2 separate regions of the Homo sapiens genome follow, and region 1 is linked to region 2. The links come from fine-mapping of genetic effects on gene expression. A gene starts in region 2. The other region holds a variant in brackets. All regions are shown on one strand. Distances are between the middles of the regions.

What was found. PIP is the estimated chance that this variant, and not a neighbour inherited with it, causes the effect.
Region 1: its variant is fine-mapped to the expression of CDC42EP4 in whole blood (TOPMed, PIP above 0.99).

Annotation. Positions count from the first base shown.
Region 1 is chr17:73,288,049-73,296,371 of GRCh38, forward strand. The region is part of intron 1 of CDC42EP4 (CDC42 effector protein 4); the gene reads right to left. Among named protein-coding and RNA genes, the nearest start is that of CDC42EP4, 20 kb to the right of the region's middle. RefSeq lists enhancers at 2,878-3,097, 3,388-3,467, 3,442-3,736, 3,720-4,601, 3,868-3,937. The variant C/T (reference allele first, on the strand shown) is at 3,430.
Region 2 is chr17:73,306,732-73,315,054 of GRCh38, forward strand. CDC42EP4 (CDC42 effector protein 4) reads right to left here and starts at 5,270. Exons shown (of 2, transcript NM_012121.5): 1 at 5,162-5,270. RefSeq lists silencers at 4,019-4,148, 4,159-4,708, 5,159-5,418, 5,489-5,648.

The DNA.
Region 1 (8,323 bases), 19 kb before region 2:
CAAACAGTTCCCCAATGCAACCCCTGCCACACCCAGCATCCTTCAGGGCTCAGCTGGGACACATCACTACTCCCAGGAAACCTTTAGCCACCACCTGCCCCCCACGGCACTTTGGGAGATGTCCCCTCTTCCAGCAGATACTGGCTACATTATTCTGTCCCTGCTGGCTGGACTCTCATCTTCCCACTGCAGTACAAACTTCTAGGGTTTTGAGGCAGATTCTCGCCCTGTCCCCCAGGCCGGAGTGTAATGGCATGATCTTGGCTCACTGCAACTTCTGCCTCCCGGGTTCTAGCGATTCTCTTGCCTCAGTCTCCTGAGTAGCTGAGATTTACAGGTGCACACCACCACGTCCAGCTATTTTTTTTTTTTTTTTGTAATTTTAGTAGAGATAGAGATGGAGTTTCACCATGTTGGTCAGGCTGGTCTCGAACTCCTGACCTCAGGTGATCCACCCACCTCGGCCTCCCAGTGCTGGGATCAGGACGTGGGATCAGCGTGAGCCACCGCGCCTGGTCCATCCAGAGGGTTTTAACAGGTCTGTTTACCACCGAGTCTGGTCCAGCAGGGTGTGACACATGGTCCGCCTCCAACCGCCTCCAAGCACCCACTGGAAGTCCAGCACCTCCCTCCTCTCCTCCCCTTCTGCCCACAGCCTGGCTCCAGGGCTCCCAGCCTGACCTCTCTGCATCCTCACCCCCATCCGCTTCCCTGTTCTCTCAAGCCTCTGCTGCCCAGCCTCATGGCTTCCCCCACCAGCAATGTCCCCCCTCCCAGTGCCCACGCCATACCGCTTATCATTCCAGCAAACACAAAGTTCTCTCGGGCAGGGAGGGGGAGCCAGGCACCTGGCAGACTTGCCACACAGTGACGTGGGCGAGGACGTGAGGGATGCCTTGAGATGATACTCTACTCTGGGTCATAGGTCAGCTCTCTCTCCTCCCTACCCTTAGGAAAGTGACCTTCCCCTAACTCTAACTTGGATTATCTCTGGGCCCCACCCTCCTGCCCCACCTCAACCTCTAAACAATTAGACATTGAACCGCTAGACCAAAGGTCAGCAAACACTTTTTGCAAAGGGCCAGAGAGTAAATATTCTCGGCCTTGTGGCTGATAGGGTTTTTGTCACAGCTACTCAACTGTCTTCTTAGTATAAAACTAGCCGTTGGCCGGGCACAGTGGGTCACAACTGTAATCCCAGCACTCTGGGAGGCTACGGCAGGAGGATCAGTTGAGCCCAGGAGTTCCAGACCAGCCTGGGCAACACGGTGAGACCCCATCTCTACACAAAATCAAAAAAAGAAAGAAAGGAGCCATAGCAACATGTAAACAAGTAGGCATGGCTATGTTCCAATAACATTTTATTTACAGACAACTTCTGGGTTGGTGAGCAGATCGAGGTGCCAGGAAGGTGGTGCGTGCCCTGCCCCCCACCCCAACACTTGACCCCACGCATCCTCATGCAGCTCTTCCGTTTGGCTGTTCCTGAGTCGTATCTTTTGTAATAAACCAGTAAAAGAAAAAAAACCACCAAAAAGCCACATCTTTATTTACAAAAGCAAACGCAGGCTGGGTTTGGCCCATGGACTGTAGTTTGCTGACTCCTGAATATCATATATGACCCTCTTGGCCAGCCATGGGCTCCTAGGCAAAACTCTGAAGAAAACAGGAAGGGAGGAAGGGAGGGAGGGAGGAAGGGAGGGAGGAAGGGAGGGGAAGGAAAGGAAGGAAGGAAAGGAAATAAGGAAAGAAAAAAAGAAAGAGAGAAAGAAAAAGAAAGGAAAGAAGGAAAGGAAAGGAAGAGAAGAAAGGAAGAAAGGAAAAGAAAAGCAAGGAAGGAAAGAAAGAGAAAAAGAAGCAGCAGAAGAAAAGAAAAAGAAAAAGAGAAGGTAGACTCTGCCTCAGTCACGTTGGGCATAGAAGGGAAAAAGGCCAAGCTTCAAACGAACTCTCGTTCCTGGCAAATCCTTCAGGCTTCTACTGCCACCAGCAGGGACACCAGTCAGGAACGGAGGGGACCCCATCTTCCACCTGCCTGCACCCCGACTCCTGGCTCTACGCACAGCATCCAGGAATCTCAAAGAACTGGAGGGGATATTCAGTGCAGCACTTTCACTTTATGGATGAGGAAACAAGTTTATTGAAGGAAAGTGATTTATCCAGGTTTTTAGCCCAAAGCAACAGAGCTGGGCTAGAAACTGGGTCTTTGAGTCCAGAGCTCTCTCCGCTCCACTCCAGGCCCTTCTCCAGCTCTGGCGGCGGCATTGCTGGTCAGTGACCACCGACCACTGAGTGCTCCTCCCCACTGCTGGCCGGCAGGGTACAGAGAAGGGGGTACCCAACAGCTGCTTCAAGAAGGTTCTTGTGTAATCCTAGAGCAGGTTCCACACTGTTGCTATTTGGGCCAGATAATTTCTCATCGGGAGGTGGACCTGCCCTGTGCACTGTAGGATATTCAGCAGCATCCCTGGTCTCTACCCATTAGATGCCAGTAGCATCCACCCCCCAGTCACAACAAGCAAAACTGTCTCAAGATATTGCCCAATGTCCCCCAGGAGGCAAAACTGCCCCAGTTGAGAAACAGCAGCCTTGAGTGAGAACACACAGGTGAAGATAGAGCAGGTATGCTCACCAGGTAAACAACAAAGACAGAGAAGCAGGGAGGCGGGTGTGGATGGTCAGAACCGGGTGAGAACATGGCGGCACGAGCCCCCAGAGCTGCGTTAAGGGTTTCAACGCCAAGGCAGGAACCCCCAGACCCTGTGAGTGATGTCAGGTCCTGTGGTTTCCCGATCTTATACGCTCATTAGAGAGGAAAGAAAGGGAAACCACAGACCCGGCTCCCCAGGACTCACCAGAGAAGCTGCAGGTCACTGTGGCTGCCCAAAGGGACCAAATATCCTGGCCATGATGGCTACAGGGGAGGACAGCTCCCCGCATCCCATTAGCCACACCACCCAGCACATCCTTGCGGGTAGAACTATTGAGGTAGGTCAGAGGGGACAGCAGGGAAACTCAGCTGAAATCACGGCCATCCTGGGCTAGCCCTGGGGTCCCCAGGATCTTGTTCAACCCCACACCCCAGAAAGACAGGGACAGGTCTACCCAGTGCTGCCTGCTGCCACGGTCTCGCTTCCTGGGGGGTTGGGAACGAGACTTTGTGGCTTGTAGAAAGCCATCTTCAATAACCAGCAAGGAAGGGTCCTGAGAGAGTTGGGGCCTAGAGGGAGTCACGCATCTGTCCCACTGCCCCAGCGAGGAGGGGGCTGCAGTACCTGGCAGTCCACACTGGGGATGAGGCCTGGGTGTCTGGAGCTCAGACTAGACAGGCCACCCAGCAGGATTGAGGGTCAGCAACAGCTTGGTTTCACCAGCCTTGAGTGACCTTGAGTCACTCTGAGCTTCTAACAGAGAACAGTTTGGAGGTGA[C/T]GAGCTGGATCATAGAGTTTAAGAGAAAGTAGGTGGTGGGAGTCTCGCCAGAGGCCTGGGCAGGTCCTGGGGGCAGCTATGGTTTGGGAGGCCACAGGGCATTGTGGCTTTGGGCGGGGCTTTCAGAAGCATGGTGACTCAGCTCTGGGGAAGTGGCTAAAATAGGCTGCCCAACGTGGGGCAGGCACTCCCCATAGCCTGCCTTGGGCGGGACACCCCCACCCCACCCCAGAAACCACATCCCACTTTCTTGGCAGGGAGAGGGAAAATGGATCACAGCTCACAGCCCTCCCTAGCTCTCCTGAGCCTCCGGAGGAACAGATTCCTCTACCCTCAGCCCACTGACCACGGAACCTTCCTTTAAGGTGGGAACGAGGAGCCCTCCCCAGAAGGTCAGGCCCCTGCTTGGGTCACAGCAACCACACCTTTAGTTCAGCCCTGTTCCTGAGACTACGGAAGACCACCCTTGCCTGGACCCCTCGCCTATCCTCCCTGGCCCTCCCAGCTTGGCCAGCCCAGCAGACCCAGAGCAGAAGGACAGACGGGACCAACACTTCTCACTCCAAGTGACCGGGCAGTGGCCTGTCCCTGGCAGCTTGGCTTGAGGCAGGCGCCAGACCTGAGCTCTCATGGGGCAGCTAGGCAGGCCTCGCTCTCTGAAGCTGCCCTGCGGTTCACCCCGGTATACAGGGTACACAACATGCCTCAATGCCCACTGCCACTGCCTCCGCCACTGCTGCTGGGCAGCATGCCCTCTGCAGGGCCTTCCCCTAGCTGTTCTAACCAACCACCCGATGCCAGGTCCAGGCAATGTGGCCGAATAGCAGAGGGCTTTTAGTGCACGATGACTTTAGTTGTGACCTGGATCGGCTACAAGAGGCTTTGTTCCATTACTCATCATCCAGTCACTCACTCCATGACTTCCTGCAGACCCACTGATATTCACAAACTCTTCTAGGCCCTGGAGATAGAGCAGTGAAAATAGCACGCTGTTTTCCCAGGGCACGTGTGTAGTGTGAGTGTGGGGGGTGGGGGTGGGGAATGGAGGTGTAAACCTATAAATAAAATAAATGGTATCTCATATTCCTCAGTATAAGGAGGGAAAGGGGTGGTATGAGTGGGTGTGGGAGTCAGGGGGTCTGGGGGAGGCCCCTCTTGAGGAAGGAGCATCATGAGTTGAGAACCAAATGATGAGAAGGAACCAGCCGGGTCAGAAGCGACCCAGGCAGAGGGAACGGCGCGTGCAAACGCCGGGGTATAGGAACAGGCTTGTGGCATTTATGGAATAGAATAAAAATCCATGCAGCCAGGGCCCAGGTTACATAGAGCCCTCCCTACCAGGCCACATAAAGAGTTCTGTTTTGTTTTTAGTTTTTATTACAGGCACCTGCCATCATGCCCAGTTAATTTTTGAATTTTTTGGAGAGACCAGGTTTCACCATGTTGGCTAGGCTGGTCCTGAACTCCTGACTTCAGGTGATCTGCCCGCCTCGGCCTCCCAAAGTGCTGGGATTACAGGAGCCACTGCTCCTGGCCGATTTTTTTATGTTTTTAGAGATGGGGTTTCACCACGTCGGCCAGGCTGGTCTCGAACTCCTGGCATCAAGCAATCCACCCGCCTTGGCCTCCCAAAGTTCTGGCATTACAGGCATGAGCCACCGCACCCAGCCCAGGTAAGGAGTTTGGAGGTCATTATAGGTGTACAAGGAAACCGGCGGCTGTTTGTAAGCAGGCGAGTGATTCAATCTGTGTATCTGGAAGCTCCCGGAGGTCCTGGCATTGGAGGAATGAAGGAGGGGAGCTGGAATTCAGTCAGGAGGCTGTTGCAGAAATGCAGGTCAAAGAGGATGGAGACCAGGATGTGGGTCTGGCGAAGGGGGACACAGTGGGAGACATTTAGGCCATGTTTTGGAGGTAGAGACACCCGGGATTGTGGAGGGCCCAGACCAGGGAGGAGAGAAAAGACAGGATCAAATGGGACTCCAGGCCTTCCAGGGGCAGCCTCTGGTCCTGGCCATCCTTTCCCAGGTTTTGCCTGGCAGGCCACGGCCCCTTCTCACAGGAGGGGCTGACATCCTACCCCTAGGCGGAACTTCACTTTGCCGAAACACAGGTGGCATTCTGCTACACAAGGCTTGTCAGATGGAACAGCACGCTGGAGGGGGTTGTGCAAGAGGCTCACTGGGACATGGGCCACAACTCTAAGAGGTGAGGGACTCTGGCTTTAGTCACCAGAGAAAAATCCAGTACTTTCTGGAACACTCACCAGCCTTACCCTGCAAAGATAGGAAAGCACAGGGAAGGCGGAAGACTGTGTTTCATTCAAACTGTGGCAGGGCTGAGGGCAGCTAAGTGAATGGGCGAGAACAGTGACCGCTTAGATACACGTGGTTACATGTTCCAGGCAGGACTTCAATGCCGACTGTGTTGTGATTTTAGCTGACTTTAGTATTCTTGGGGATCTTTTAACTCCTTCATGTGCCCTGCTCAAAAGCCCTTGCATCTGGAAGTGTGCTGCGTGCGCAAGGAGGTTAAGGCTCACTGCTGTAATATTCTGAGCCTAAGTAACCACAATCAAAAACCAAACACAAGGCCGGGCGTGGTGGCTCACACCTGTAATCCCAGCACTTTGGGAGGCTGAGGCGGGTGGATCTCCTGAGGTCAGGAGTTCGAGACCAGCCTGGCCAACATGGTGAAACCCCATCTCCACTAAAAACACAGAAATCAGCCAGGCATGGTGGTGTGCACCTGTAGTCCCAGTTATTCAGGAGGCTGAGGCAGGGAGAATCGCTTGAACCCAGGAGGTGGAGGTTGCAGTGAGCTGAGATCGCGCCACTGCATTCCAGCCTGGGTGACAGAGCAAGATTCTGTCTCAAAAAAAAACAAACAAAGAAACAAAAAAACAAACCCAGGATGGGAACATGAAATGTCACCATCAGGACTCCTGTACCATTTATGTATCTGTGTCAAATATCTCCTTAAAATACCTGGGTGTGGAGGGATCATACTTTCAAGATGGAAAGACCAAATTAAGGGACTTGCCCTAGGTCATGGATTGAAGCCAGAGTTTAATTCCCACCCCAGGGCTCCATTCACTTAAACAGCAATGTACTATCAAAAGTAGGGGGCATCACAGGACAAACACTGAATATGTAATTTGTGTATATACATATATGTGTATATATCTACACACATATATATTTTTATAGGTTATATTCATGTCTATTGTCATTCCACGCATTAGTAAGTTTTAGTTTACACACACACACCACACACACACACGCATGTGCACAAGTTTTGGTGTGTTCTTTCTAAATCCCAGTGGATTTTCTTTTTCTTTCTTTTTTTTGAGACAGAGTTTCGCTCTTGTTGCCCATGCTGGAATGTAATGGTGCACTCTTGGCTCACTGTACCTCCACCTCCCAGATTCAGGCAATTCTCCTGCCTTAGCCTCCTGAGTAGCTGGGATTACAGGCACCTGCTACCACACCCGGCTAATTTTTGTATTTTTTTTAGTAGAGACGGGGTTCCACCATGTTGGCCAAGTTGGTCTCAAACTCCTGACCTCAGGGGATCCACCTGCCTCGGCCTCCCAAAGTGCTGGGATTACAGGCTTGAGCCATTGCGCCTGGCCCCAGTGGATTTTCTTATGTACTCCTTGGGGTGCTAAAATGCAGCACCCACTGTGTCACATGACTCCCACTGAGATTGAGAGATGGTAGACATCTGGGAGAGGATCCAACCCAGTGGTCTTGATTAGGCTGTTGGGACCAGGAGAGGTGACTTGCCAAAGGCCACAGAACTCACAAGGGAGCCGGGCGGTGCTGGAGCCCAAGTCTCTTGACTCCCACCCCAAAGATCTTCCCCAGATAACACCTCAATGGGCTCACCGCCAGGCACTAGGACAACCTTCTGATGTTTGCTACCATCTTGCCCAAATTAAGAGCTGGGAAAGAGAAGAGGGAAGGACCTTCCTCCCACTGAGCAATTGGTACTAGGTGCCACCAGGCAGGGGGAACATTACAAAACTCTGATCCAAGAGCTGCTCAGAGTCAAAATGGTCCCAGGGTGGGGTGGTCTTGCGGTACATGAAACTCCAGCAAAATTTCTTCAAATAATGGCTTTAAAATAAATGATGGTTTTGGCCAGGTGTGGTGGCTCATGCCTGTAATCCCAGCACTTTGGGAGGCTGAGGTAGGTGGATCACCTGAGGTCAGGAGTTTGAGACCAGCCTGGCCAACATGGTGAAACCCCATCTCAACTAATAATACAAAGAAATTAGCCAGGCATGGTGGCGGGTGCCTGTAATCCCAGCTACTAGGGAGGCTGAGGCAGGAGAACTGCTTGAACCTGGGAGGCAGAGGTTGCAGCACACTGAGATCATGCCATTGCACTCCAGCCCAGGCGACAAGAGTGAAACTCCATCTCCAAAAAAAAAAAAAAAAGAATGATGGTTTTAAAATGAATATGATTCAGTTTCCTCAAATAATGGCTTTAAAATGAATGTGATTTAAATGAATATGATTTACCTCCTAGAACTTAACCCTGTGGAACTATTTCAAAGGCGAAAAAAGTCACACACGTATTTGTTGAAGCCTTATTCATAATAGCGAAAGACTGGAGACAGGCTAGTCGCAGTGGCTCACGCCTGTAATCCCAGCACTTTGGGAGGCCGAGGCGGGTGGACCACGACGTCAGGAGTTTGAGACCAGCCTGACCAATATGGCGAAACCCTGTCTCTACTAAAAATACAAAAAAAAAAAAAATTAAAAAATACATAAAAAAATAAAATTAGCTGGGCCTGGTGGTGTGCGCCTGTAATCCCAGCTACTCAGGAGGCTGAGGCAGGAGAATGGCTTGAACCTGGGAGGCAGAGGTTGCAGTGAGCCGAGAT
Region 2 (8,323 bases):
GGAGGCAACAGTGTAAGGAAATAAGAAGGTTGCACTGAGTGAAGACCCGAGGTAGAGAGGAAGGACAGGCAGGAAAGAGAAGCCAGCACACAGAACCTGGCTTTGTTGGCACACTTGGAGAGATTCAAAGCTGGGGTCTCCAGACCAAGTTCAGTGACTGCCAGAACTGCAGGTGTCTGGGCAAAAGAAGAACCCAGAGTCTCATGCTGGGAGGTGGAGGCTGCCCCAGACAACCTCTGCTACCGTGATGGCCAAGGCAGAAGATGGTGGCTGAAGCAGCTCTGGCTGAGCACAGACATCCAGGGATCCTTCTTGCCTGGCACTGTGGTTTTTCCAGATGCCTTCAGCTCCATCTTTGGGGTGAAGGGGAAACACCAGGTGTGCAGAGCAGTTTCTTACAGGTGGGGAACTGTAAGCCTTCATTAATGACCACACCCTAAACTGTGCTCACCTGAATCCCAAAAGAGAGACCCTTCCTCAGCTTGAGTGGAGACAGCCAGTTCCCCTGTTCCTGGCAAGGGAGGGCTTTGGATGCCAGCACTGCCATCCTGGCACAGAGCCCAGAGCTGCAAGCTGGCAGTGCCTGGGGGAGACTCCAATGTAAGTTAGTTGGAAGGAAGCCCAAGTCTCCTCAAGAAGGCGTATTTTAAGCTGGAGCTTTCGGGGCACGGTGAGCGGGAATGTGGGAGACTAATGTCTGAATTTTTCTTTCTTTCTTTTTTTTTTTTTTTTTTTAGACGGAGTCTCGCTCTGTCACCCAGGCTAGAATGCAGTGGCGCGATCTCGGCTCACTGCAAGCTCCGCCTCCCGGGTTCACACCATTCTCCTGCCTCAGCCTCCCAAGTAGCTGGGACTACAGGCGCCCACCACCAAGCCTAGCTAATTTTTTGTACTTTTTAGTAGAGACAGGGTTTCACTGTGTTAGTCAGGATGGTCTCGATCTCCTGACCTCCTGATCCACCCGCCTTGGCCTCCCAAAGTGCTGGGATTACAGGTGTGAGCCACCACGCCTGGCCCTGAATTTCTCTCTTTTTTTTTTTTTTTTTTTTGAGATGGAGTCTCACTCTATCGCCCATGCTGGAGTACAGCAACCTCCACCTCTTGGGTTCAAGCGATTCTTGTGTCTCAGCTTCCCCAGTAGCTGGGATTATAGGTGCACGCCACCATGCCCGGCTAATTTTTGTATTTTTAGTAGAGACGGGGTTTCACCATATTGGCCAGGCTGATCTCAAACTCCTGACCTCAAGTGATCTGCCCGCCTTGGCCTCCCCAAGTGCTGAGATTACAGGCGTGAGCCACTGTGCCCGGCCCTAATGTCTGAATTTCCTTCCCAACGCACTCAAGCAAAAAGGGCTGTGTCCAGTGCCACATGCGGGCTCCTTCCAGCACTACCATCCAGTTCCCTGCCGAGAGAGGGCACGCATGGGCTTGGCCTTCCTAGAGCACCCCAGAAGCACTGGCTGGAGTTGGCCTTCAGGACACTCTGCCGGATGACCCCTCAAAGTGTCCCCAGCTCCAGAATTTGGTTCTTTTCCTCACGGTCGGGAAAAATCCTCCAGTACGTAGGTCAGAAGAGCTACGCAGAGCTCAGGTCAGCTCTGTTTCCAGGGCGAGATTGCTCAACCCTTCTCCCTCCGCCCACAGGCCTTATCTCTGGCATCAACCCAGCTCCCCATTCCTCCAAGGGACGGACTCCTCCCTCCCCCCACAGGGACAAACTCCTCTGAGTCTGCAGAACCAGAATGAGAACACAGAAGGCTGGACTTACTGCTAACCAAGTGCAACCCTGACCACTCTGACTTCTGACTTCTTCACTTCGAACCCAATCCAAACGTAGGGGCGTGGGGTGGGGGAGAGTGAAAGGGAGAGGCCAACATCAAACACCTTTTGGCCACACCTGCGCACAGACAGTCCGGGCCGCAGAAATCAATCAGTCACTCCAAAGGGGTGGAAGCCCTGGGCCACTGCCAACCCAAGGCCCTTCTGGAAAAGCTCTGGACTTGTTAAGAAGGGTTGGCCAGGGCTGGGTGCAGTGGTTTACGCCTGTAATCCCGGCTCTTGGGGAGGCCGAGGTGGGTGGATTGCCTGAGTTCAGGAGTTCGCGACCGGCCTGGGCAACACAGTGAAACCCTGTTTCTACTAAAATACAAAAAAAAATTAGCCGGGCGTGGTGGCATGCACCTATAATCCCAGCTACTGCAGAGGCTGAGGCAGGAGAATTGCTTGAACCCGGGAGGTGGAGGATGCAGTGAGCCAAGATTGTGCCACTGCACTCCAGCCTGGGCAACAGAGCAAAGCTCTGTCTCCAAAAAAAAAAAAAAAAAAAAGGGTTGGCCAGGTGCAGTGGCTCATACCTGTATGCCCAGCACTTTGAGAGGCCGAGGTGGGGGAAGATCCCTTGAGCTCAGGAGTTCAAGACCAGCCTGGGCAACATGGTGAAACCCCACCTCTACAAAAAATACAAAAAATGGCTGGGCGTGGTGGTGGGCGCCAGTAGTCCCAGCTACTCAGGAGGCTGAAGTGGGAGGATAGCTTGAGCCCAGGAGGTCCAGCCTGCAGTGAGCCTTGACTATGACGCTGCACCACAACCTGGGTGACAGAGCAAGACCTGGTCTCAAAAAATTAATAAATAAAATAAAAATTATTTTTAAAATCAAAAGACTGGTGTAAGATTCCTCTCCCAGGTCAACACTCACTCCCCTGACCTTTATACATGAGACCTCCCTTTGCTTCTGACTCCTTGGTCTCTGGTTCTGTGAGGTGCTGTCGGGTTCCAGAGGCAGCAGCACAGTGGAGGCAGGGTACAGAGGATGGGGACAAGCACGGTGGGTGGGCAAGGGAAAGAGAGAAACGAGGGGAAAAGAGAAGAGGAATCCAAAAAGAGAGAGGCAGAAACCCCAGAAAATGGAGAATCATTCACAGCACAGGCCTAGGCTGTACAGCAGAGCAGGAGCAAGCTGCCCTCTGTGTGCAGGGACCCTAGGACTTCAGGGAGATTTCAGAGGGGAGGCGCTGAGACTCACCCCAGAACCACCGCCCATATGATCACAGCGGGCCCCTCCTAGTCCCTGCAGGGGTCCACCAGGATGCCTGGGAATCCACTTGGGATCTCCCCAAATTCACTGAACACCCCTTGTGGGAAGGAGCAGCTGTCTTCAAGGAGTGGAGAGGCAAAGTCCAAGTTCAGAGGAGATAAGCCACCCCACTAATCAGTCAGTCACATGTGCAGCTCACACAGGGCAGTTGATGAGAGCAGGAACCGGCAGGGCACCCCCGCATTCAGTAGGCACTGGCTTCTCAGCAGAGATAGAGCCTCAGGAGATCCTGGTGGATGCCCTGTTATTGCCCCAGGAGCCCCTGGGGCTGCCAGGGGCTCTCTTAGGGCCTGGCTCAGTCCCAGCCAACTCCCGATTTCTGGGAGAAATCAGAAATCCGCAGCTCAGCAATCCCTTCCTTTGTGGCCTGTTCTTTGTTCTCTTAAAATTCAGTCCACCCTGCTGGTGGTCCCTCCTCCACCCTAGCCTCAGAAGCGGGCGGGGGCTGAGGGAGTTATTGGAAACCCAGACTGCCAAAGAAGTCGCCTTGCAGGAGGCCCCTGTCACCGGCCCCTCATTATTTACACTCGCTGGATGGGACATTTCTCTGGTACAGATGGCTGCTGGGGTTCGGACGAGAGAGAGATTTTCCCTCCAGCACCCTGGACCCTCAGGGGAGGGCAGGGGGCTTCGCAGCGACGGGGGCTCCCAAGGACTCCACCCGGATCCAGCTGCTCAGCTATCTGGGCAAACAGTGGGCACCGGGCACACAGTAAGGGATGTGGGAGCCGGTCAGATTGCAAGGGGTGGGAGTCGTGGAGAGAGAGAAGTTCCAGAGGCAACGAGAAAAGAAAAGGCATTGTATTTCCCCTCCATTCTCCCAGGGAGAAAAAGAAAACTTCCAAAGCCGAGGCCGCAGTCACTGGGAAAACACAGGGAACCTGGTTTGAGTTAGCAGCGAGCACCCCTCCCCCAGTCACACACACACACACACACACACACACACACACACACACACACACACACACGCACTTCAGTCCTCTCCCAGGAAGCTGGCTCAGCCTCAGCCCCGGCTCCCGCCCAGCTCTCCAGCCCTCCCGGCCGGGGCACTCACCGGCTGACGGGATCCCCGCGGGCAGGATGGCTCCTGGGGGACGCGCCGGGGGCAGGGGGCAGTTTTGTAACCCCGGCTGGGGGCGCTCCGGAGAGGGGGCGGGGCCAGGGACGGCCGATCCGCGCGCACCCGCCCCAAGCGGGCGATTAAATCATTAACCGACCGCTCCCGCCTGCGATCCCGCTGAGCGCGCTGAGCTCGGGGCGCACTAGCCCAGGAGCGGCCGTCTCCCCGGCTCCAAGGGGGCGGGTGGCTCGACTGCCCTCCCCCCGCACCCCGCCAGGAGGCGCCTCGGCCTCCCGGGCTTCCGAGGGAGCGGGCGGGGCGGGAGCCTGGCGGGGGAGGGAAGGGTTCGCGGGGCGGGAGTAGGGGAAAGGAGGACCATTTGTTCCTTCGGCCATTCCCTTCCAGACAGCTCCTTCCCTCTGGCTTCCCGGCCGGGTGACATTGGGTGGCGTGTGCTGCAGTGTGTGTACGAGAGCGAGATGTGTACACGCCTCTGCCCGTACAGGCGGAGAATTCGGTTCTTATTCATGGAGAACTCCGGGCGCACACACGCCCCCCTCGCGGAGATCGCGGGCCGCGCGCCGCCGATTGCTGCGCTCCTGCCCACACCGACACACACCCCATTCCTGGGAAGGGGGAGGCCCTTTAAAACCGGCCCCCAACCCCCTCAGCGGCACCCTTGGCCAGGGCCGGGAGTTCCAGCGTGGAGAGAGGAAATGGAGTCCCGGCAACGCTGCGCCCGGCTCCCTGCCACCTCCTCCTCCACACATCCCGCTCTGCCAGGACACTAGGTGCGCAGCTTAGGGTCCCAGGCACCGCGGTGGGCGCGGTGAAAAGCGCGAGCGCCGAGAAGTGGGGGCTCCGCGCCCTTCTCCCCGCGCCGCGGCCTCGCATCCCCAGCTTCGATCCTCTCTGCCCCACAGGGGGACTCGAGACCCCCAAGCCCACCCAGGGCACCCAGCGCGAAGGCGGCTACCACAGACAGAGGCGGTTGCCCGTCGCCTACCTCGGTCCCCGGAGACCCGAGCTCTGGGCCGGCTGCGCTGTCCCCTTCGTGGGCTCCGCGCGGCGGAGGGGCTGGCGGCCCCTGTCAGCGCCGGCGTTTGTTTCCCTCTGGCTCTCGGGCTTTCAGGGCTGGGAGCCTCCAGGACACTCCCCTTCCAGGCTCCGCCCGCGCCCGCCCCGCGCAACCCTCCCCGCGCACCCCTCTGCGCTGATGTCACGGCGCCGCAGCAGCCAATGGCCGTCGGGAACCTCTGCCCGACTGCTCGGCCTCCTCGGTTCAAACTGAAAGCCTGAGACTTTCCCAACTCCGTATGGGGCAGCCTGGGCCCGCCCGGCTTCCGGGAGACACTCCCGCCCCAGCCTGCGCTCCGGCCGCGAACCCCCACTGGGGCCCCCAGGGCCAGGGGCGCGTCTCCCTCCGGGGGCCTGGCGCGAGGCTCTTTTGAGGCTCTTCCCCATTCGAGCCGGGGCAAGAAACCAAGAACTCCAGCCCGGGTGGCGTTCCTCGTTCCTGCTCCCTCCCGGACCTGCTAACCACCTGGCTGCAGTACTGTCGGGAGATGGGGCAGGAGGGCTGGCGCCACCAGCTTCGTGGGTGCCATCCCAGACTCTCGCTGTAAACGAGGGAGCGGGGAGGAGCCGGCCAGCCCCGAGGCCAGGCTTGGACTGGGCGTCAGAAATGTTTCTACAGGGTGACAGCCCTTGAGCTCCCCGCATCCCCGTCTGTGCCTTTGCCTCCTAAGTATCAGCTGAGGCTAAATTTGCACCAGGTGAACGTCAAGGAGGATCAACTCCTGAGTCCCAGAGCCTGAATCCAAGTCCCAGGCCTTGGACTCTATTCTTTTTAGAGGAATAGTTTCAGTTGAAATGATCATTATCAAGGTAGAATGCCAGCTGCGAAGTAGTCAACTAAAGTGGACAAGGCGCAAAGTGAAAAGTTCCCTTGCCTCTAGCTGAACCCCACCCTCGGTTTTTAAAGGAAGTGAGGGTGAAGGCCCCAGACTTTCCCCATGGCTGCGAGGTCCCTAAGCCCTCAGGAACATTCTGCTTTCTGGGGACAGCACATTTCCGTTTCCCTCTGCAGTGCGACAGCAACCAGCTCTTGAGAGCTAATGGTTTGGCCACTCCATCCTGCTGTGAAAATTAAGTTCTGGGCTGGGCGCAGTGGCTCATGCCTGTAATCCTAGCATTTTGGGAGGCCAAGGCAGGTGGGGGGTCACTTGAGGTCAGAAGTTTGAGACCAGCCTGGCCAACATGGCGAAACCCCATCTCTACCAAAAATACAAAAATTAGTCGGGCATGGTGGTGGGCGCCTGTAATCCCAGCTACCCAGGAGGCTGAGGCGGGACAATCGCTTGAACCTGGGAGGTGGAGGTTGCAGTGAGCCGAGATCGCGCTATTGCACTCTAGCCTGGGTGACAGAGGTAGACTCCATCTCAAAAAAAAAAATAAATGAATAATAAGTAAAATCAAATTCTGAACTGGACATCTGGAGGGAAAGGTAGGGTTTGGAGCCACTTGGGAGGCAGACACTGTGGATTCAAACCCTGGCGGGGTTATCATGGATGTAAACCAAAAAGTGACTAAGGCAGATCTCAATCAAATAGAGGTTTAGTTAGCCAAGGTTGAGGATCCACCGGGGAAAAATCACCTTTTTTCCAAAAAGGTTTTGGGAACTTCTGTATTTAAAAGAGAAAAAGCAAGCAGGAAAGGAAAAGAAGAGGGAGAGAGGGAGGAAAGGCATTGAGGTCACAAGCGTGTGAGGCTCTGATTTAGTGTCTGTAAGTCTACATTTTACATGTGAAAGGGAATAGAAGAAAAAGTCAATGATGCATTGTCTCCTACTCAGTACGTCTAAGGGGAGCAAAGGAAACCCTGTGTCAACAGGGTTGTGAAACTGCAGCTATCTGGGAACAAAAGGAAAGCAGCTTCTGTGGTTTCCAAGCTTAACGTCCCCCCCAGCCCCGCCCCTTTTTTTTTTTTGGAGACAGGGTCTTGCTCTGTTGCCCAGGCTGGAGTGCAGTGCTGCAATCGTAGCTCACTATAGCCTTGGCCTCCTGGGCTCAAGCGATCCTCCCACCTCACCCTCCTGAGTAGCTGAGACTACAGGTGTGCGCCACCATGCCCAGCTACATATTTTGTACTTTTTCTTTTGTAGAGACAGGGTTCTGTCATGTTGCCCAGGCTGGTCTCAAACTCCTGAGCTCAAGCAATCCACCCACCTCAACCTCCAAAAGTGCTGGGATTAAACTTTCCCTTTGACATAGTGAATTTGGGGTCCCGAGATTCTATTCCCTTTCACATGGGGAAGTCGCTAATTCCCACCTCTGACCCTTAGCTAGCCTGGCTGTCCTTATGTGTCCAAAGAGCACAGGACCCCTCTGCTAGCCTCGTCTGGAGGGTGTAAAGAGGAATGAGATATCAGGTGTGAAAGCGCTTTATGACTAGAAAGCAACCAGAATGGAGGTGATTGCTGTCATCATGACCTAGTGCCAAAGGTGTCCTCAAAAGAAGTAGGAGCTGCAACAGGACTGTGGGTAAGGCTCGCTGGATAGAGGTTTGGAGACGCCTCTGGATTGGAATTCTAGCTCTGCCATTTATGAGCTGACAAGTTATCCACCAGCTTCCCCATCTGTAAAGTGAGAACAGCAATCTCTACCTTCCCCTATTGGGGTGAATATTAAAAGAGATCACTTAGGCTGGGCGCGGTGGCTCATGCCTGTAATCCCACTGCTTTGGGAGGCTGAAGCCAGTGGATCGCTTGAGCCCAGGAGTTCAAGAGAAACCTGGCAACCTGGCGAAACCCCATCTCTACAAAAGTATACAAAAATCAGCAAGGTGTGGTGGTGCATGCCTGTAGTCCCAGCTATTTGGGAGGCTGAGATGGGAGAATCCACTTGAGCCTGCAGGTTGAGGCTGCAGTAAGCCAAGATCATGCCACTGCATTCTAGCCTGGGTAACAGAGGGAGACCCTGTCTCAAAAAACAAACAAACAAACAAACAAAGGCACCTGGCCATTTGCTGGGCATATGCAGGCCCTCAGTGGGTCTCCTTCTACCACATTGCTTCCAGGTGGAAGTCCTCCCTGGTTCCTGGCGTTCCAGGACCTCTTTCTCCTGAAATCATAGCTTAAGTTAAAAACAAAAACAAAAAAAAAACGTTT